Homo sapiens: one gene and its partners. The protein of the gene in region 1 interacts with the protein of each later gene in a pairwise test. Each region holds a gene or a part of one and is shown in the gene's direction. Other genes may lie near its edges.

The links.
Region 2: the proteins of LHX4 (region 1) and LONRF1 interact in binary tests that used the Homo sapiens proteins (3 or more experiments, as listed by UniProt).
Region 3: the proteins of LHX4 (region 1) and MYOZ1 interact in binary tests that used the Homo sapiens proteins (3 or more experiments, as listed by UniProt).

What each region holds. Positions count from the first base shown.
Region 1 is NC_000001.11:180,268,172-180,275,511, forward strand, and holds part of LHX4 (LIM/homeobox protein Lhx4), read left to right. Parts: intron 1-1,481; exon of another isoform or gene 1,482-3,208; coding exon 3,209-3,363; exon of another isoform or gene 3,364-3,663; coding exon 3,664-3,835; exon of another isoform or gene 3,836-6,013; coding exon 6,014-6,408; 3' UTR 6,409-7,340. UniProt on the Homo sapiens protein: May play a critical role in the development of respiratory control mechanisms and in the normal growth and maturation of the lung. Binds preferentially to methylated DNA.
Region 2 is NC_000008.11:12,724,527-12,731,794, reverse strand, and holds part of LONRF1 (LON peptidase N-terminal domain and RING finger protein 1), read left to right. Parts: coding exon 1-59; intron 60-2,462; coding exon 2,463-2,621; intron 2,622-2,731; coding exon 2,732-2,894; intron 2,895-4,490; exon of another isoform or gene 4,491-4,563; intron 4,564-5,915; coding exon 5,916-6,068; intron 6,069-7,268.
Region 3 is NC_000010.11:73,638,475-73,646,071, reverse strand, and holds the start of MYOZ1 (myozenin-1), read left to right. Parts: upstream 1-4,597; 5' UTR 4,598-4,661; intron 4,662-6,036; 5' UTR 6,037-6,054; coding exon 6,055-6,127; intron 6,128-7,597. UniProt on the Homo sapiens protein: Myozenins may serve as intracellular binding proteins involved in linking Z-disk proteins such as alpha-actinin, gamma-filamin, TCAP/telethonin, LDB3/ZASP and localizing calcineurin signaling to the sarcomere.

The sequences.
Region 1 (7,340 bases):
GATGAACCATCACAGCAGATGGACTCAGAGATACCAAGACACCTTTGGAAGTCTAGTGCCGTTCATCAGAGATACTAAGATGGCACGACCTCCCCGGCCTGCAGCTGGTTCTCATCAGAGGCCTCATTTGGACTCTGAGCACTCTCAGCTCAGCATCTCCTGATGTTGTGGGTGGTTCAAGAGACAAGAGAAACAGATGTAGATTGGTCAGAATCTGGCTGGGGAGGTGGGAATGACATTGTGGTGCTCACAGTTTTATCGAGGAATATTTGCACCACAGCAGACCTCTGCAGGATGATGGAAGATGCCGGACTTGCTGTCAGAAGCTGGCTGGGCATCCCCCCACACAGGGAGATCTCCTGGCAAGTTGTAGAACTGGCTGACCCTCGGCTTCTCAGCTGTCTATGGAGGATCATAGCATCTGCCACGTAGGGCTGTTTTCCTGAGGTTTAAATAGGATGAGGCTTGTGAAATGGGATGTGAAATAAGAGACTGACGTGGAGGAGAAGTGCAAACAGGGAGGTGAGGTGTGCTTGAGGTTTTAAAGCAGCGGAATGTTACACAGTATTTCTGGCCTGTTCCCCGGGTCCTTTCCTGACCCCACCCTGGCTGTGAGCAAGGCAGGGCTCCTCTGTCCTGGGCAATCGGTGATCCTTGGAGCAGCGGGGAGTTCTGTCCACTGCAGAATGCCTGGCTGTCTTTTCAGGTTGTTTTAATTCCTCCTTGCTACTCTCAGCCCTCCTGCAGGCTTACAGTTCCCTCCCATTAGCTAAACAAAGGATCTCAGAGCAGTTACTTGCACCTTAGTGTGAATGATTTTGTTCACTTGTTCCGTCTCCCTGGATATTTGCATTTTCAATATAATGAGGTTGCGTTTTATGCCAGGGACAAGTTCTAGGAGACCCTGCATCATTCAAAACTAACATATTTTAAGACTAATTTTCCTGTAGGAATTAATGTAGAGTGTGTGGGGGGGGGGGTGGTATATTCTGAGAGCACATAAATCCATAACCAGTGAAGTGTATCTTTGCCTTAATGCTACTTTTTATTTTCTCAGCATTATCTTGAATACCTTGCAGAACGCTCTCTCCTAAATTAACAGCCCAGGGTATCATGGGCTCCCTTGGCCTTCCTCATAGCGTTTTGTCACATTTAACTTCCGTACCAAAGTTATTGATTTTTGGGTACATTTTTCAGCACGAGCACTGCCACTGCTACTTAATGAATACTTGGATGACATTGTTATGGGATATAAAAAAGATTTTAAATTATAATAACAGTGAATGTTAAAATAACAGCATATTAGTCCCCATCATTGCAAGAAGAAAATCCTGTGTGTGTAGCAGTGCCGAACCAGCGGGCCACCAACCAGGATGACGGGTCTATCCCAGTGGCGCTACCATCTGGCTGTGGTGAAAAGAATTTATAATTCCGTAGGCCAAGCTATTTTGAAATTAAGTGATTCTCGAGAAATTAAAACATTTTTGGTGATTGCATTATTTCACATTTTTTAATATAAAGATTGTACACAAGTGCACTATTTCCCATTTGCATAATTCAAAGTTGCATCAGACACTCCCGTGTAGACTATAAATATGCACAGAAGGGACAGACTCCTCAGAATGAAAAGGAAGGCATTTTGGAGGTTCCCCTTTGTCTTTTGGAATGACTCTCTAAGTAGTGTAGTCTCTGTGGCAGGGGCTCCGGAATCCCTACCCTTCGGGTTCAGGGCTTCAGGGAGGGAGTTGGGCCACAGTAGTTCCGGGATGACAGTGGCCACGTGAGAGAAGAAAACAGCCCGAGGAGAAGGGAAGGCACGGGTGTGTCCCCCCTCACTGTGTACACACATGTCCTGGCTGCACAGCTGCTTCATTCCTCTAGTGCCTCCCAAGATCAGGGCAGGCCGTGTTGCCCTCTGGACTTCCAAGGGGGAAGTGAGTTACTGGCCCAAGTCACTCACTCATCAAGAACACTGAAGCCAGGTCTGCTGACTCCAGGGAGAGCCTTGTAGATTGTGAGGACCGAATGCATATAAAGTCCTTAGTCAACACCAGCACATGGTAGGTGCTAACACATGTTGGCTACTATTGTTTCTAAGAGAGGGTTTTCTTGAATGGAAAGAAAGGAGAAAAGACAGAGAGGAAGTCAGGAATGTCACAGAGACACCTTCTGGGGCACACAGGTGAGCAAGCACAGAGAGCAGAGCTGCCCAGGCCAGCTGCTGACTTTATTCCGTGTGTCCTCCAGGGGCACTGTGGAGAAAAGGGCAGTATGCCTAAGTGCTGGGAGAGGAAACAAACCTTTACATTCACCTGTGCTTCCGAACACACGCACGCGCCTCTCTCTGTACCTGACTTTGAATGGAACAAACCAGACTTTAACTAACAGGAACTTGAGCTTGTTCACTCAAAATCTGTCTAGGACTTTGTGTTGATCAGTCAGTGTGTTGCCCAGAACATTCCTTAGACTAGTTTTCTCAAAAAATTTTGACTACAATCCACAGTAAAACTCATTTTACATTTCATCTCAGTACACATATTTATACAATAAAAACTAAAGTTTAATGAAATGATCTTGCCATTCCATCCCATTCTCTTCATCTGATTTCCTGTTTTAGTTTTGATCCACTAAGGTGACTTTACAGCCCACGAGTGGGTTCTGACCTATAGTTTAGAAACCTGCTTAGACACTGTTGGGTGTGCAAGCTCACCCCTGGCTGTGAGCCCAGCGACGCCAGGGCAAAGGTGACATGGCTGTGGGGAAATGGGAGACTCCTGATGAGACAGAGGGGAGGGCATCTGGGGCGACTTTGAACATGACTTCAACCTGGCTGTTCACCTTCACAGCTCTGGCAAGAACTCATGAGGATGTGTGAGCAGAGTGTTTGTCATGACAGGGACGTGTGGAATTGGGTACATTCAATCTGATGAGACTTCTGTGCAGCTGGGCTGGCAGGGGAGGGTTGAGGCAGGGAGCTGAGCAGAGAAAGGACTGCTGTCCTCACTTTTCAGTGGCTTGGGAAGGCCCGTGGTGCAGGAGTCAGTGCCATGAGAGTGGGGACCTCTCCACTCTGATGTCCCCTGTGCCTCGCGCTGTCCTGCCTACAGCAGGCAGGCTTAGGTGCAGAAAGGATGGAAGGGAGGGTGTGGGAGGAGGCGCAGCTGCTGCAGATAGGCCGAAGCCAGTAAGCAGTGGTTTTTCCTTGCAGATGACTCAGAGGCTGGAGCTAAGCGGCCCCGGACCACCATCACAGCCAAGCAGCTGGAGACATTAAAGAATGCATACAAGAACTCCCCCAAGCCTGCCCGGCACGTGAGGGAGCAGCTGTCCTCAGAGACAGGCCTGGACATGAGGGTCGTACAGGTGAGATGCCAGCACTCCTGTGCCCTCCGGGGATCCCAGGCCCGGGACAGGGGTGGAAGGTATCCTGAGTGACATCAGCTCACGGGTGGTTGGGCTCAGGGCTTGACCCCAGGGCTTTTGCCAGAACTGAAGACAGAGTTCTGAGGCCCACCTGGGGAGAGGGGGTGGGGCGCATCGCACTCCCAGACCTGTGCTCCATTCAGGCTTCAGTCTGCTTCCAGCCGCCCGCCTAGGGGGTCCTGGGGGCTTTGGGTTTGTGGTGGACGCCCCCTGAGTATGTCCCTTGTGCTTGTGTGGCAGGTTTGGTTTCAGAACAGAAGGGCCAAAGAGAAACGCCTGAAGAAGGATGCAGGGCGGCACCGCTGGGGGCAGTTCTATAAGAGCGTCAAGAGGAGCCGGGGCAGCAGCAAGCAGGAGAAGGAGAGCTCTGCAGAGGACTGTGGGGTTAGTGACAGTGAGCTGAGCTTCCGAGGTGAGCAGGGCTGGAGGGGCCAGGCCGAGGCCTTAGGAAAGTCCCCTGGGAATCTGTAATCCCTGGCACTCAGGAGGGATCTTTCTTGAGGCCTTGGCAACTCCCTCCTGAACACAGGCTTTTCCTTAAGACTTGCAGTGAAGGGTGGGGGAAATGGTAGTGGCCCTTTACCATGGGACAGGAGTAGGAAACAAGATTGCTGAGGTCTGGAAGCTGGGATGGGCCAGGCCCCGTCCTGTGGCCCCAAGGTCTCCCCTCCCCTCCTGCTGACTGGGGCCTCCCTCATCAGCCCACACAGCTATGAACAGATGACTGGGTTCCAGCCTTGTGCCCCTAGCCCCTCTCCCATCTTTGTCCCCTTTGCTGGGACACTGGCCTACTCCCATAGTCCCCTAGAGCCACCCCTTCCTCCAGTCCTGGTGGTGGGGAGGTCATGCTCCACAGGTTTTTTCCTGGGAAATCAGTACTGTGAGTGCATGTGAGATGGGGAACTGGCTTCACTTCCGAAATCCCTTTCCCCACCACTCACTTCATTCTGTCCCCTGCACACAAGCTTTGCAGCATGCACTATATTCAAATTCATGCATCAGCAAAATTGTAAATTACTGCATGTTATGAATCCTCAGGTTGTTTGCAAAGAATCATAACTGTTCTCAGGTACTGAGTTCTCAAATGTGGAAGGTCTTCTGCGGAGGGGGAAAGGGAAGAGTACTCAACTGGCGATCAGAGACCTGGTTTCCAGTGCAGCTCTGTCAAATCGATTCACTTCTCTTGAGCCCCAGTATTCCCAAGAGGAATACCATATCTTTGCCCATCTCACTGCGTTGTGGGGATCAATGAACACAACCAACTGTGGATGTGCTTGGGGAAAGCCTGGCACATTTGTATACCTGGAAGGCATGATCGTTCCCACAGGGAGCGTGTGGCTCCCGCAGAGGGCCCTGGTCATTTGGGATGACAGGTATAGGGAAAAGGCTAACTCATGGCCATTTGACAATGGAGTGGAGCCTTCATCTTCCTGCTCCCTTTAAAGAGCATGAGCTCCCCCCACCATGTTTTTTCATAAGGGGAATGGGGGGCAGGCCTCAGAAGGGATGGGGTGTTGAAGTCTAGTCTGGGGAGGCCTTATTTAGGGATTGGTGCAGAGGCCCAGGTGGAAATAGAAAAGGAAGTTTGTGGGACAGAGGATGGAACAAGTTGCCTGCCAGGACAACGATGCCCTGGGAGGACTCTAGTTCAGCCCAGAGGTCAGCTGAGCCCTAGAGGGCAGCCTCCTCTGAGAACACAGGGCCCGTGAGGCCTTGGGGACAGCTCATGGGACTAATACTCACCTTTTAGGCTTCTTGGCAGGATTGGGAAAGTCAATCTCATCTGGGCTGTTGAAGTCAACACCTAGAACATACTGGATTGTTAAGCTCATTTCTGTTGGGTGCAGGTGGGTCCCTGGGCTGACCTATCATTGGTTTCTCTGGGAATAATTTCTCAAAGACTAAAACTGCTCACCTCTGTTGGAGAGAGAAATTCTTTCAAGTGGCAAAGATTCCATTAGATCCCCTTAATGAAATTCTTTAAGAAAAAAGAAGGTTCATTTGCCTTAATCAAGTCAATTCTTTGTCCCCAGTGAAGAGCTTATTGAATACAGACAGAAACCAAGTCCTTTGATATTGAACCTCTCTTCCAGATAGACCAGAAGGATTTTGTACAGATGTCTAAGAGTGGTCCTCAGCTTCCCTGACCATATGGGCCTGCTTGCTTCCCAATCAACTAAACCAAGCCCTTTCTCAGCTTGAAAGCTTTCAGGGTAAATGTTGTCAGCATGTAGTTTCCATTTGTGATGTGGAGACATCTGACCCACCCAGCCTTAGGCATTCATCCTCCTCAGTGTAGCCAGAGTATTAGTACACGAGCCACAAGGGACCAACGAGCTCACCAAACATTTGTCCATCCTTCTGGGACCTGGGAATTTAGTCTTTGCAGGTGTTTCTTGTTTTTCTCCTTGGCCTGGGTTGGCCTCTGGATATCAGGCTGCCATATTGGTGTGTCTGACCCATGCTTGGCTGCAAGGCAGCTGCCATCCTTGGGCATCTTTCCTGGTCATGTGTGTTCCTAGGTTGTGAAGAGCAGGGGACCATCAGAGTCCTGGCAGCTGACAATAAATCTCCGTTCTTTTGTCCACAGAGGATCAAATTCTCTCAGAACTTGGCCACACCAATAGGATTTATGGCAACGTGGGGGACGTTACAGGCGGACAGTTAATGAATGGGAGCTTCTCCATGGACGGGACAGGACAATCCTATCAGGACTTGAGGGATGGGAGCCCCTATGGAATCCCCCAGTCTCCATCCTCCATATCGTCCCTGCCATCCCACGCTCCTTTGCTCAATGGGCTGGATTACACGGTGGACAGTAATTTGGGCATCATTGCGCATGCAGGGCAGGGAGTAAGCCAGACGCTGAGAGCCATGGCTGGGGGACCCACCTCTGACATCTCCACAGGAAGCAGTGTAGGCTATCCCGACTTTCCAACTAGCCCAGGCTCTTGGCTCGATGAAATGGATCATCCTCCTTTTTAAACTTCTCTCCTCCCCACCCTACCTGCCCCCCTGGCTTGAGAGAATATCTTCAAGGATCAAAAGAGACTTGCCTTTTAAGGATCGAAAGTACGCCAATGTGAATTTCCATTATTTTCAATGGAAGTCCTCCGCTGATTCCTAGAAGGCTGTGAGACCACACTAGGGCATTGTTTCCCTGGGGAAGCAGTGGGAGAGCAGACTCATCTCAGAACACAGCACAGGGGGTAATGGCCTAGAGCTCTAGGGACACTGGCTTGTTGGGTCTCTCCCCTGCTGTTCTGCTTAGGGGCTTGGCTGCTCAGTGCTTTGGTAGCACAAGGTGACTGTGATAGGCCCCCTTGGCCTTTGGGAACTTTGCTCCAACTGGTGTGTCTCACACAATGCCTCCCAAAACACTGCTCTCACCAGAACTGAGACTCCTAAGGTAGAGGCCTCACAGCCCTTGAGTAAAATAAAAGTGATTTCTGGACCATCCTTATTGAACCCTATATTTCAAAATGAAAAGATCAGTTATTAAAGGTCAGTGAACACTTTGATGGCCAGTTTGATATTAAAAACATGCCCCCTCCTTTTTTATTTTTGCTGTGAAGATATGAATTCTTTCCTACAAACCAGAGAATATGAACCTGTTTTGGTTTTTAAGTGTCCCATCTATATCATTGACTCTGATGGCAAGAGGTGGTTTTCATTGCAGGTGACTGAGGCTGAGCTGAGTAGCCCTGGACCACCGCTGCAGATTGCCTGAGTCGTCCCCTTGGTGCACAGTGTGCCTTCTTCAATTGCTTGTATCATTTATTCCACAAGACAGGCTGTGGGCTGTAAAATGAGCAAAACTAAAATGTGGGGAGAACAAAATGACAATCAATCAGTGAACATTTGTAGACACATTTGGATTCCAAACCTGCAGTCTGTTCAGCCATATCGGCTGATGC
Region 2 (7,268 bases), on another chromosome or scaffold:
CCTGATGAACTGTCTGAGAGAAAAAAAATATATGATGAAGAAACTGCTGAACTCTCACAGTAAGTTTCTTCTCATAAAAAAAATTATGAACTACTACCCTTTAATAGTAAGGAAAAACCTCACCGCAAGCTGGATCCTGTCTTTAGTTCATCTCAGTCTAGTCAAGAAGTATTGGTCTGTTTCCGTGGTCCTCAACAGACAGAATCTTATAAAAGTTCACTTGGTAACATCCGGATGTTTTATAGGGAGTTATTGACTCAGCTCTGTGGGCTGAAGCAGTATTTTGGGCGGGGGAGGAATTTCCTACAGTGCCATCAGGCAGTGGAATGGGAAATAGAGAGGGGGCGCTGGTGACAGTGACATTGGTGGTGATGGCGGCTCTCATGTGTCGTGGTAGGGCAAGAGGAAGGTTGAGGGTCAGTAGCCTAGATTAGCAGGGGATTTTCTGTCACATGGAGGCCCGGAAGGGGGCTTTCCAAACTTTGAGATCTGAGATTGAAATTGGAAGAGGGGTGTTCAGGGCCAAATCCTCAATTAATGAAGATACTGACTGGGAGCACAACTGAGTTGGTGTCGGGAGGGTGAAAATCTCGGAGGCAACTTTGGGATTCGGTAAGGCAGGCCACTCTGCAAAGAACACAGCAGCTGATGGAGCTGGGTAGGCAGGGCCAGGCATTGCTTGTTGTCCCTTTTCTGTTTTTCTTTCCCGTTTTTCTCCCTTTCTTTTCCCTAAATGTCTTTCCCTCTTGTGCAGTCACTTGGGTCTCTTTAAATTTTATTAACGGGTTTTTAATTTCTTTATTTCTTTTACTCTCTTTTAATTGAACACACTAAAAAACAAAATTATAATTTGTATATGCTGTTTTATTTAACAACTTTTTGTTTCCATTGATTTTCAAAATATAAATTGAACATTTTGTATGTCACTTTCTAAGAAAAGCTGTGCTTGTAGACTCCTTTATCAACATGTGCCCATCAGATGTCTTCAGTGAGCCAGGTGCCTTCCACAGAAGAAAGATTTCCACTCTTTATAGAAATAGATATTGATTTGTCTTCTCACAGAATTGATATTTTATTGTGTGGTTTATAAAATGATATGACAATTATGAACCTTTCTGATCAGTGCTGAAGCATCTAGATTTAAGAAAACTGCATTTCTGCTTTTGAAAATTTAAACATGGTGACACAACCAGCCAGCCCACGGAAGAGTGGTAGACTCAAAGGACAGAGGAGGGAGACACACAGAGAGCTGCGCATTGGAGAGAAGAGAAGCGACAGGGTGTCCAGCTGCTTACTAATGGGGCTGTTTCTTAAAACACATATTTTAAACATGTTTCACCTTATGTTTATATAAGTAATTGATGGTCATTTTGAAAAAAACTCAAAAATACAAATGAGCTTTTAAAAAAAGCCATAATCTGCAACTCAAAGGGAATCAACTATTGGCATTTTGGCATACATATTTCCAAACTTGAATGTAGTATGTATAAATAGGCTTTAAACAAAGATGGGATCATGTTATTCATGATCAGTATCTAAAACCTGCTCCTCTCATTAATATAAGCATTTCTTCTAATTCAGTTCATACACATCATCTTTTAATGGAAACATAGTATTCCGTTTTATGGATGTACCATAATTGATCTTACTAGTCTCCTCTTTATGATTCTACAATTTGGTTACTATCCACATTGCTACAGTGAACATTCATATAGCACTTGCCTGCTTATGTCTGAAAATAAGCTGGTTGGTTCCAAGAACATGAACATTTCCTGCCAACAACGTAAGGTTTCTGCTGTCTGTAGCCATGTTCTTTAGCGTGCCTGTGCTGTTTCAGAGTGCCCCCATGCTGCCATTTTTCCCATACCTCAGACAGAACTGGGCATTGCCTTTATCCTTCTCTTTCTTTCTACCAATCTGGCAATGAAAAATGTTATATCATTTTAATTACTTGGAAAAAATGTTATCTCATCAAAATATGTTTTCTTATCCTTGCGTTTGAAAATAATGGCTGAGAATTTTTAAGTATTTGCTCTTTGTTGTGGGAGTTCACTTTTTCTTGTTATCTAAGAGTAACTATGAGTGTTTGGGATAAAAGGTATTTATTGTCATGTTATAAATATTTAAAACAGATTTTAATATAAAATATTACTTATAATAAATTCTCTTGATTCATAAACATACTTAGCTCTGTAAGATAATCTGGTGTCTTAAAATTCAGTTTACTCTTATAAATAAGAGGATCACAGCAGATTTTCAGTATTAATATTTCATCAGTGTGAGCTTAGTGAACGGGGTGCTGATTCTTGTTCTTGCCAAGAATAAAAACCACCTTATTTAGAACTAATTCTTTTTTTGCTTTACATTAGTTCATTACTGTTATAAACCTCACTCATTTTTTGTATGTGTTCGGTAATATTTTTCTTGTATGAATTCTAATAATTAAACTGTTTTTCCCTTAGCTTGACCAAGAATGTTCCAATATTTGTTTGCACTATGGCCTACCCCACTGTGCCTTGCCCTCTCCATGTATTTGAGCCAAGATACAGATTGATGATTCGAAGAAGTATACAGACTGGAACCAAACAGTTTGGCATGTGTGTCAGTGATACACAAAATAGGTATGCTTTTTGTGAACCTAAATATTTGTATTTATGTTAGACCTCTCAATATGGATGAGAACTTGCATGTTTATGTTTCAACTTTGTTACTAATCAAGGTTTTCTTTTAGTTTTGCAGATTATGGTTGTATGTTACAAATTAGAAACGTGCATTTCTTACCGGACGGAAGGTCTGTGGTTGATACAGTTGGAGGAAAGCGGTTTAGGGTTTTAAAAAGAGGAATGAAAGATGGATATTGCACTGCCGACATTGAATATCTGGAAGATGTTAAGGTATTTTAAAATGTGCTTTGCCAGCATACTTTCGTATATCCTGTTCCAGGGATTGGTACAGGCATGCAGGCTATTTTCTAGGTGCATGAACCAGTTCTTATCAGACAGCCTTACCACTGTGATGAGAATGTGCTCCAAGTTACCTTTTTCGTATCTTGCTCTGAAACTGTTGCACATTCTAAGAGAACTTGGAAGACTAGAACATAGATTCTCTTTATTTCTGCAGGCTTAACAACCAGCCCAGTGCCTAGAATGTATGTGTATATGTACACATGTGCATGTGTGTATACACGTGATAGGTACTTAACAATAGTGGTTGAATAAGTTGAACTTCCAACCCATCTAAGTTTTGAAAGGTTTACATTTCTGCCCTGTTTTATTGAATGTATTAGTAGTTGAAGCCGATGGAATTAGTAGATTGAAATTTGATGTAAATGTAAACACATCAAATCTTATAAGAATTGTTTTATATATTAAGATTGTTCTTGTGCCTAAGATAACCTTAATGATAAAATAGAGTTGAATGCTGTGTGAAGACCCTGGGGCAGACATAGAAAGCACTGCCAGTGTACATGTTGGTGATATCTTAACAGGGTAGGGTTTTTGTGATGTCTTTCTAGAATAGGGTTAATGTGGCCCTTTTGATGTTTGCAATACCCAGTTTACCTACTGCAGTTAGTTTAGGAACCGGAAAAGTGACTTATGATGCTACAAATACCAAATTGAAGGCAATTTCTTTTGGAAAGGCATTATAAAAACATAGATCTTATCCCTTCTCTTATTCATTGATCTGTTTAGGCCCTTCATTTCGTCAGCATTTATTGGATATTGGCATTAGGTATTTTCACAAACATTAACTCATAGAATTTTCACAACTCTATGAAATAGTAGATGAGGAAAGTACAATTCAGAGGTGTTAATTAATTTGCCTGAGAGCCTATAGATAATGTAACAAAAATGATTAAAGCAAACTGTCTGACTCAGACTTTGAGCTTTATCACTATGCCATTTGGCTCTCTGTTGATAAACCTGATTAGTCTGACGTTGGCAGTCCTATCTTATTATAAAAATGCTATGGGGGTACTTTGTCTTGTGCAGTTGGCCGAAAGTATTGTGTGAGTTGAAATTTTGAGTTGATTGATAGAATCTGTGCCTTAGGCATACTTGGTTAATGGAATCACTTGCTAAAGGTTCTTCTTTGTAAAGTTAATAACCATATTTCAGTTTTGTGTAAATTTATGTCTTCACTTATTGGATTTGATGACAAAATCACTTGAGTATATGGCTAAATTACATGACTATATGTATTAATACTTACAAACATGTAGGCAATAGAATCACATTCTAAAAGTATTACAGATATGATATTTATAAACGAGTCCTCTTTGGTCCTCGGAATGTCTAGTAATCTTTTCTCATCATGTCTTCATCTATATAATGATTTTCTTGTCCATTCTGGAAAACCTTCTCAAATTTGTTTTATATGGCAAATTTTCCTCTTCTTATAATAATTCTGTTTTCTGTGACTTCTAATGAAATTTTAAGTTCTGTTAAAATTATCACAGTAAAGTTCCTTGACTTTAAAAGCTTGCTTTTAAAATGGAGCTGGCCAAAAAGCAGGCAGAGACTTTAAAAGCGTCTCTGCCTGCTTTTTGGCCAGCTCCGTTTTTCATCACTGACGCTTATAATTGTTATCATTCCTTGTTTACCAGAGCCTGTCATTTGTTTTCTTGAATTTTGTGAGGGTGCAGAGCAGATGCTTTAAAAAAAAAAAAAAAAAAGATTTAACAAGGCATAAGTTTGTTTCTTGCTCCTATCAATGTATGTTAGCAGGGGCCTGAATCATGTATAGTCATTTCAGGACCAAAATTCTTCAATTGTGTGGCTCCTCTACCTTTTTTAAAAGTTTATTTTTATTGTGGTAAAATATACATAGAATTTACCATTTTAACCATCTTTGAGTGCACACAGTGGCATTAAGTACATTCACATTGTTATGCAAAAAACAGATGCTCTTTAAACTTTAGTTTTCATTTCAAATCTTTCAAAAGTAAAAAGTTTGCTTTTTTGTCTCTGGTGTGCTGTAGTCTTATTTTTATATTTCGAAATGTTTTCAGAGTCCCTTTGTTGTTTTTAAATGAGTCATCCTTGAAGTATGAAAGGCTGAGTCAGGCCTGGTATTTTTTCAGATGAGTTTGTGCATATGAGACAGAGCACGACCTGGCAAGTAGCAAGTGGGATGTAAGTGTGCATTAAAGAAATCAGTATAAGATGGATGAGTTAAACTTAGATCTTCCCACCTGTGTTCTCTGAGACTACTCTTCTATCTCAGGCTGGAAGCCTGATGCAATTAATTTTACATTTGCAGTTTGGTGACCCAGTAGTCTAAAGAATACACTGAGGGGTTCCAGAGGTAGCCATAGCCTTGGGCCTTGCCAGCAGAAGCTCATCATTGTGTAATTGACTCTCTGACATACTGGCTTTATATGCTAACTTATTTGTTGTAGCTTTTTGTTTGTTTTTGTGTTTTGACCCAGTTCCCTAGTAAAAGATGTAACTGTGCCTGGACTCCTCCTGTTACTACTTTCTGTCATGTCATCTACACCCTAACTACTTATCTTTTCTTTTTTTGTAGCAACTATCATCCACTTTTTTGTTCCACTGCTTTCAAAAACCATTGATCCATAAAGACAAATGGAATTCCAAATTAGACCTCTGAACCAGAACTCACTCTCAATCTTACTCTTCCCACTTGAGGGCTGTTGTAGGGTTCTGCAATATTGCACTGCTAAGTCAGCAAGGTTAGGCATAGGTCAGGCCTTGTTGTCTTTCTTTAGTCTGGTCAGCCCTATATGAGACAGAAATGTGTATTAAAGCATAGGAATAATACTCTCTGGGACGTCAGCACTGAAACAGGTATTGCCCTGTTCTTCTGATCCCTTTTTCCATTTGTGTCGGTTGGCATATGGCATATGGACGGGGGATTAGACACAGAAGTCTTACTGACTATTGTATTTCTAGGTTGAGAATGAAGATGAGATTAAGAATCTCAGAGAGCTTCATGATTTGGTTTACTCTCAAGCCTGCAGCTGGTTTCAGAATTTAAGAGACAGATTTCGAAGCCAAATTCTTCAGCATTTCGGATCAATGCCCGAGAGGGAGGAAAACCTTCAGGTATGGTGGCTTTTCTGTTCTTCCAAAAGTCACTTTTTTATAAACCCAAATTTGCACACTTCTACATTTGTTTTCTCATTGTCCTTTCTGCACTACTTTTTCTTTGACTGTCCCCTCCCCCGCACCAGCCCCACCTCATCTTTGCAATCATGAGTTCTCTAGAGCAGTGGTCTCCACTACATTCCGTACAGATAGAGGCTGGAAATACGTGTCAGCTGAGATGCCTGTAGGAGAGAGTGCCAGAAAGGGAGCAAGTCCTTAAGAGGATTTTTAGGAGTGGGTAAGGAATTAAAAACGGGATGTTACTATCTAGAAACTGTGACTGTGGGACAACTAACCATGCCTTTGAGCCCATCGCCTGTTGCTGTTATTCTTTGACAGCAGAGAGACTTACCATTTTCTATACATTTGAAACATCTTTTCTCACCTTTCTTTGTATCTCCCAACATTTGACCCAACCACTTCAATTCATTTTTGTCTCTTCATGTTTAATACCTCGCTTCTCATGAAACTATTATTCTTTTAGTCTTGCAGGTACTTAGGGTTTACACTTAAGCTTAGTCTAATGAATGTGTATCTGGCACTTTCTGTGCAAGCAAAACTGCAGGAGGCATAAAAGAAGGGTCTGGCTCCTGGAAAATCTGATCATAGACTTACTAAAGCACTACGTTTTAGGCATCGTAGCATTTTGAATTGAACTAAATGTTTTTGATCAGAAGGTGATAGATTTTACAAAGGAATGGCTGTCAGTAAATATGTGAAGATGGAGAGATAATAGATCTCATTGTAATGCACACTGCCTCATTCCCGTTTTCAAGGGTTGGTCTACATTTGTCTGAATCCCAATTGAATCCTTCACCTGAACTTGAAACACCAACATTAGGCCATCTCCAAATTTAGTATTCATTCTGTTTAGCATATTATCAGTTGCCATCTATTTGTTTTAACTGATTACTTGAATCTGATTAAACATCACAGAAATGGGCTTTGATAAGAACAATATTGAATAAGAAATTTTAAATAACAAAACAGCTTATAGAAAAATTCAGCATAACTTTTCCATCACCTTCACCACCCTTGCCTTTTATTATCCTGTCCTGTATCACTGCTTTCTGTTAGCAGTGTTGTGTGAGTTAGGATTTGGGCAGGAAAGCAAAAGCAACCACCCGTCATTTTCCCAGAATGAAGGGTTTGACGTAG
Region 3 (7,597 bases), on another chromosome or scaffold:
CGGGCGGATCACGAGGTCAGGAGATCGAGACCATCCTGGCTAACACGGTGAAACCCCATTTCCACTAAAAATACAAAAAATTAGCTGGGCGTGGTGGCGAGCGCCTGTAGTCCCAGCTACTCGGGAGGCTGAGGCAGGAGAATGGCATGAACCTGGAAGGCGGAGCTTGCAGTGAGCTGAGATTGCGCCACTGCACTCCAGCCTGGGCGACGGAGCGAGACTCTGTCTCAAAACAAACAAACAAACAAAAGACCCAATCTGAGTCTTATCGTTGTACTGATAGAAGGGTCAGATATCCCCACATGGAGTTGAGTGGGAGAAAGAGATTCACTAGAGAATAACTCCTTAGAGACCAATGTCTGTAGCAGGTGTACAGCATCTTGTGAAAGTTATGGAGCATGAAAAGACTGAAGGGCCAGGACAGTTTGCATGGGCTGAGTTATACCAGCTAGACCAGGAATAGAACAAAGAATTCTATACCTCAGGATTTCAAAAAGTTAGCAACTTGAGAGGCCAGTGCTGAGCAACCCAGTACCCAGGAAATGAAAAAAAGAAAGAAAATTCCCTCCGAGAATGAACAAATCATTGGCTTCATTGCCTCATGAGCTTGAGAGAAAGGAGAAGAGAGCCAGAGTGTGGCAAGTGAGGCCAAAATCAGAAGCATGGCAGAAATGAGTGTAAGTGATTGAGCCACAGACAGAAGTGTGGCGAGGGACAATGCCATATTGGGAGAAGGTAAAGTTGAGTAACAAGAAACCAACCGTGTGTGAGAGGGGGATTGGAAAAAAATTTGAGGGAGAAGAATGTTAGAATGGAAGGGAATGATGGTGGAAGGGAGGTGTGAGGGTGTGTGCTGAGTGTTGAAAGAACGGTTGGTGTCTGTGTGATTTTCCTTGAGTCTGTTCTTCAGTGTGTCTTCTGCAGCTTGCCATGACTGCCTGGGAAAGAGTAGGGAAATACCCAGAGCCAAAACCTCCTTTCAGTCCCACCCCATCCCTCAAAACCCCAGCTATTGCTTCTTTTCAGCTTCAGGTCCTGATCTCCAATCTTAGTATGGACTCCCTTCTCACCAAGACCACCACCAGCTACGTTTGCTGTGTAATCTGGAAAGTGATAATTTCCTTTGCTTGTTGGGTGTGAGTCACAATACTTTGGTTTGTGCACAAGAATAAATTTATGCCCCATACCTTCTGTTGCTGTTATCTTCTAGTTTTATTCCTAAATCCTGATCTCTCCTTAATCTTCTTTAACCCATTCCCCTGATCTGATTTCTGATCTGTCTCTTTTCCTGCCCTCCCATTTTTCATCCTTTTGCCCTTTGTTCCCAGGTCTTTTGCTCTTTTATACAAATTCTGTCCTGCTTTGATTTAGCCACCTCCATCACTCTTCTTGGTTCCCTCTCCCCACAGTCTTCATCCAAGTTCTCCCCTTTCCCTCCCTTGCCTCATACTTTCTAGGTAAGGCTTCAGTTCACAGAACTCAGAGAAGTTGGAAAGGCCCTCTGAGCCCTTTGCTATCAACATTTCCTCGCTCCTTAGAGGAAGCAACCATATTAAACAGTCTCTGGGAAGTAAATGAAGAGAAAGCAATGGCTGGAGGGCTGGAGGGGAAGGTGGGATGGGAGAGGGAAGAATAAAGCTGAATTGAGACTACTAAAGAAGGGAGGGCGTTGGAGGTAGGTGAGAATTAGACTTCAGAGAAGGAAAGTGCCATTGCTCTGATTCTGCCAGCAGAGGGCACATTTGTGCCAATAATCAGACCCAGGCCGCAGACTCTTCCAAGTGCACTGTCTTAGAATTCCAAAAAAAGATCTCAGAGACCATAGGTTAAATAGCCTGTCTTCACCCACTCAGTCGTTTTGGGTACTCAGTTGAAGGAGATCAAACTTTCAGTTTGTTTTTGTTTTTGAGGGTGAGGGTGGTAGTGATGATGAAGTCACCTTTAGCTATTTATAGTTCTTCTTTTTTTTTGAGATGGAGTCTCCCTCTGTGGCTCAGGCTGGAGTGCAGTGGTGCGATCTCAGCTCACTGCAACCTCTGCCTCCTGGGTTCAAGTGATTCTCCTGCCTCAGCCTCCCAAGTAGCTGGGATTACAGGCACGCACCGCCATGCCTGACTAGTTTTTGTATTTTTAGTAGAGACTGGGTTTCACCATGTTGGCCAGGCTGGTCTTGAACTCCTGACCTCAAGTGATCCACCCACCTCGGCCTCCCAAAGTGCTGTGATTACAGGCATGAGCCACCACGCCCGGCCTATTTTATCTTCTAATTGCTTCCTTGGGTTGGGAGGGGATGGAGGAGGACAAAAGATGAGGGGTCTGGAGGCATAACTAGCCTGGGCAGAAGCCAACTGTGAGGGGATACCTTTTAGGGTCTCCACAGGATGGAAAAAGGACATGGTCAGGAAGAGTAAAGAGCTCAGAAGGGGACAAAGGAAGTTACAAAAGCCACTTCCTGGTGCGTGCCTGTAGTCCCAGCTACTCAGAGGCTGAGGTAGGAGGATCACTTGTGCCCAGGTGTTCAAGTCCAGCCTGGGCAACATAGTGAGACCCCCATCTCTAAAATAAAGAAAGAAATAATTTTTTAAAAAGCCAGCTAGGCACAGTGGCTCACGCCTATAATCCTAGCACTTTGGGAGGCTAAGACAGGAGGATTGCTTGAGCCCAGGTGTTTGAGACCAGCCTGGGAAACATAGTGAAACCCTGTCTCTACAAAACATATGAAAATTAGCTGGGCGTGGTGGCATGTACCAGCAGCCCTAGCTACCTGGGAGGCTGAGGTCGAAGGATTACCTGAGCCTGGGGAGGCTGAGGTTGCAGTGAGCCAAAATTGTGCCACTGCACTTCAGCACAGGCAACAGAGTGAGACCCTGTCTCAAATAAATAAATAAATAAATAAAGCCACTTCCTCAGGTAGCAGCAACAGGGTTGTGGTGGCTGCAGCAGAAGTGCTGCAGCAACTGGTTCCAGAATCTAAGCAGAAGGTGGAGGAAGATCATGCAGCTACTGAAGAAGGGCCTGGGGAAATGATAGGCTTTCCCCAAAGGGGCTTTCAAGCCTGTGGCCCTGCCCAGAGACTCCGCTGGAACAGTACAAATGGCACAGTCCAGATCCTATGTGGTATGTGCTCCCTTTGCAGGAAATCTCAAGTAGAAACCTCAGAGAGCCTGTAATCCCAGCACTTCGGGAGGCTGAGATGGATGGATCACGAGGTCAGGAGATCGAGACTATCCTGGCTAACACGGTGAAACCCCATCTCTACTAAAAATACAAAAAAAAATTTAGCCGGGCGTGTTGGTGGGCGCCTGTAGTCCCAGCTACTCGGGAGGCTGAGGCAGGAGAATGGCGTGAACCTGGGAGGTGGAGCTTGCAGTGAGCCGAGATTGCGCCACTGCACTCCAGCCTGGGCAACAGAGCGAGACTCCGTCTCAAAAAAAAAAAAAAAAAAGAAGAAGAAAAGAAACCTCAGAGAGCCTATATGTGCTTCTCAGGGAGACATCGATGTCTATCCCGCACAGCAGGTTGAACTGAGCATCTCAACAGCAAATGGAGGTTAAAAGGCAGATCCTGGCTGGGCGTGGTGGCTAGAGAATAACTCCTTAGAGACCAGATCCTGGCGGTGGCTCACGCCTGTAATTCCAACATTTTGCGAGGCCAATGTGGGTGGATCACCTGAGGTCAGGAGTTTGAGACCAGCCTGGCCAACGTGGTGAAACCCCGTCTCTACTAAAAATACAACAATTAGCCGGGCATGGTGGTGGACACCTGTAATCCCAGCTACTCAGTAGGCTGAGGCAGGAGAATTGCTTGAACCCAGGAGGTGGAGGTTGCAGTGAGCCGAGATCGCACCACTGCACTCCAGCCTGGGCAAAAAGAGCGAAACTCCATCTCAAAAAAAAAAAAAAAAAAATGCAGATCCAAGTGTTTGTCTTTTATTAAAACTGCCAGAGCTCAAGAGGAAAGAATAGGGAGTGAGGCAGACAGAATAATTGTCAAGTCTTCCCCACATCATTCCTTTGTAGGAGGTACTGGGTTTAGTTAATTTGGTCCCTTAACCTGCCAAGATCTAGCCCTTACCGAGAAAAGACCAACCTATCCAGGAACTTTAAAAGAGCAGTTCCACTGTGAAGACTTCCCTTTTTGTCCCCAAATATAGCACTTTAAGCCCTCCCTGCTCCAAATACACCCACAGGTCTCTCCACTCTGCCCTGGATTGGCTCTGTGTGGCCCTCAGGGCATGTTCCCCAGACTCTCTCTCTCTGACTGAATTCCTATCCAATACTTGCTGTCTACTTCCTGTCTCCCTCTCAGTCTTCAGTTTCTCCCTAAGTGCTTCTTTGGATCTCAGGCTCTAGGTGCAATGTGAAGGGGAGTCCCTGGGCAGACTGATCCCTGGCTCAGACAGTTCAGTGGGAGAATCCCAAAGGCCTTTTCCCTCCTTCCTGAGCCTCCGGGCAAGGAGGGAGGGATCTTGGTTCCAGGGTCTCAGTACCCCCTGTGCCATTTGAGCTGCTTGCGCTCATCATCTCTATTAATAACCAACTTCCCTCCCCCACTGCCAGTGCTGCCCCCACGCCTGCCCAGCTCGTGTTCTCCGGTCACAGCAGCTCAGTCCTCCAAAGCTGCTGGACCCCAGGGAGAGCTGACCACTGCCCGAGCAGCCGGTAAGTCTCCAGCTCTATCGTTAGAAAGGCTGGAGCCCACTGTGTTGACTTCTGTGTCTGTGTCTACAATTGTGATTCTTGATCCTGGGGGAGTCTCCCCTCTCCTCATCTATGCTCAGCTCCCAGCTGTCCAGTTGGAAGGAGAGGGGAAGGAGAGTTGGAAGGAGAGGGGCCCAGGAGGTTGGGGGGAATGGAGATGTCGGGGGAGGCACTGGAAGAATGGGAAGGGAGACCCCACTAAGTCAGTAGAGTTGCAGATGTATTTTTTGAGACAGGACTTAGAAGAGGACAGCATTTCACTGAGTGCCAACTTCTCTTAAGAAGGGATTGGAGTCCATCTTATCCCAGTTTGTCCCTTTCCATTGCCAGATCCTATTACTATGTTTCTGCCCCACCTCAATTCCCCACTGCTATGATATTGCTGAATTGACGTGTCGGGATTTGAATGCTCCCTACCCTTCCCAGTTCCACACCTGCCTCCACTCTGGGGTCTGTGGCGGGAGTGATTGCAGGAGCAGGGCCATGACTTCCCAGGCCATGTTCCAGCTGGCCTGATGAAGGAGCAACAACCTCTCCTTCCTATGGAGAGTGTTTTTGGCTGAATCTCCTCAACCCTGGCAGAATATTTCTCTGTCCTCCTGGGGACTGGGGGAAGACTGAGGAGAGACCAGAGCCTGGAATCACAGCCCCAGTCTGATATCCCAGTGCAAATAAAAACTTCAAATCATGCCAAGCCAATGAAACCTGGGTGCATTGCCCTGCTTGTGTTATTGTTTTTTAAACACTCCCCACACCTAGCTATGTTCCTAATTCCTGCACTGACTCTATGAAAAACAGCTCACAACAGGTTGGTAGACAACAGGGGCTGGTGTGCATCTATACTTCCTGTCCTGTATCCCAAGAAAAGAGAAGCCCTAAAGCGCAAGTTTTCACCTTTTGGGGAAATACATGCTTCTTTGAAAATCTGGGTCAGGTGAAGTGGCTCACCCCTGTAATCTCAGCACTTTGGGAGGCAGGAGGACTGCTTGAGCCCAGGAGTTTGAGACCAGCCTGGGCAACATGGCAAAACCACATTTCTACAAAAAATACAAAAATTAGCCAGGCACGGTGGTGCGCACCTATAGTCCCAGCTACTTGGGAGGCTGAAGTTGGAGGATCACCTGAGCCCAGGGAGGTTGAGGCTGCAGTGAGGCATGATTGTGCCATTGCACTCCAGCCTGGGCGACAGAGTGAGATCCTGTCTCTAAAAAAGAAAAAAAAATTTTTTTGTCCCCTCAAGCCCTTAAACCCAGGTTAAGAAGTGCTGCTCTCCTACAGACACTCACTCTTCCCAGTCCCTGTCCATCCACCAACTCCTCCTTCCCACCCTGTCCAGGCTGAATCCACCTCCACAATGCCGCTCTCAGGAACCCCGGCCCCTAATAAGAAGAGGAAATCCAGCAAGCTGATCATGGAACTCACTGGAGGTAGGACATGTTTGCATCTCCCTAGTGTGGGACTTCTTAAGAGCATCCCTAAACCAAGAGTCCCAGAAATATATATCTTAGGGTGAACAAACAAGAGAAATTAAGTGGTGGGAAGGCGGGTGATGGGGAGTGGGAGAGGGAAGATTAAGAAGGGTAAGGAGAAAGAGAGAAAAGATTCAACACCTTCTACCCTTTTCACTTCATAATCTGAGACAATACCCTGCCATGTTACCTGCACAGGTCCAGGACCACAGGACCCATGAGTCAGTGAGGTATATTTGAGGAAGAAAATATAATGGAGACTGGCACAGACTCAGGTCTCAATAAGTGGTTAATTTCCCTTACTTCTTTCCCCAGAGCTAGGGAGCTTGTGTAAGTACTTAAAATGGAAAACTGCACAGGCATGTTTCCTGGGGGTGGGCAGGGGTGCATGCATGTGAAGAGCTCTTCAATACCTAGAGACTCTTTGGAGCCAGAGCTCACTGAGGGAAAGAAAAGGGAAAGTAGTTAAGACAGAAGTCTGGGCCAGGTGCAGTGGCTCACGCCTGTAATCCCAGAACTTTGGGAGGCCAAGGCTGGTGGATCGCTTGAACTCAGGGGTTTGAGACTGGCCTAGGCACATGGTAAAACCTCGTCTCTACAAAAAGTACAAAAATTAGCCAGGTGTAGTGGCATGTGCCTAGAGTCCCAGCTACTCCAGAGGCTGAGGTGGGACGATCGCTTGAACCCGGGAGGTGGAGGCTGCCGTGAGCCATGATTGCGACGCTACCCTCCAGCCTGGGTGACAGAGTTCATCCTAAGATATATTTATTTTGTCTCAAAATAAATAATACAAATAGGGCTGGGGCTGTGTCTCATACCTGTAATCGCAGCACTTTGGGAGGCTGAGGTGAGAGGACCACTTGAGCCCAGGAGTTCAAGACCAGCCTGGACAACATAATGAGACCTCATTTCCATTAAAAAAAAAAAAAAAAAAAAAGTCCAGGCGTGGTGGCTCATGCCTGTAATCCCAGCACTTTGGGAGGCTGAGGTGGGCCAATCATCTGAGGTCAGAAGTTCAAGACCAGCCCGGCCAACATGGTGAAACCCTGTCTCTACAAAAATAGAAAAATTAACTGGGCATGGTGCCGGGTGCCTGTAATCCCGGCTACTTGGGAGACTGAGGGAGGAGAATCACTTGAACCCAGGAGATGGAGGTTGCAGTGAGCTGCAATCGCGCCATTGCACTTCAGCCTGGGAGACAGAGCAAGTCTCTGACTCAATAAATAAATAAATAAATAAATAAATAAATAAATAAATAAATAAAATGTAGGCTGGGCGCCACGGCTCACGCCTGTCATCCCAGCATTTTGGGAGGCCGTGGCTGGTAGGTCAGTTGAGCTCAGGAGTTTGCGACCAGCCTGGCCAACATGGTGAAACCCCATCCCTACCAAAAAATATAAAAATCAGCCAGGGATGGTGGTGCAGGCC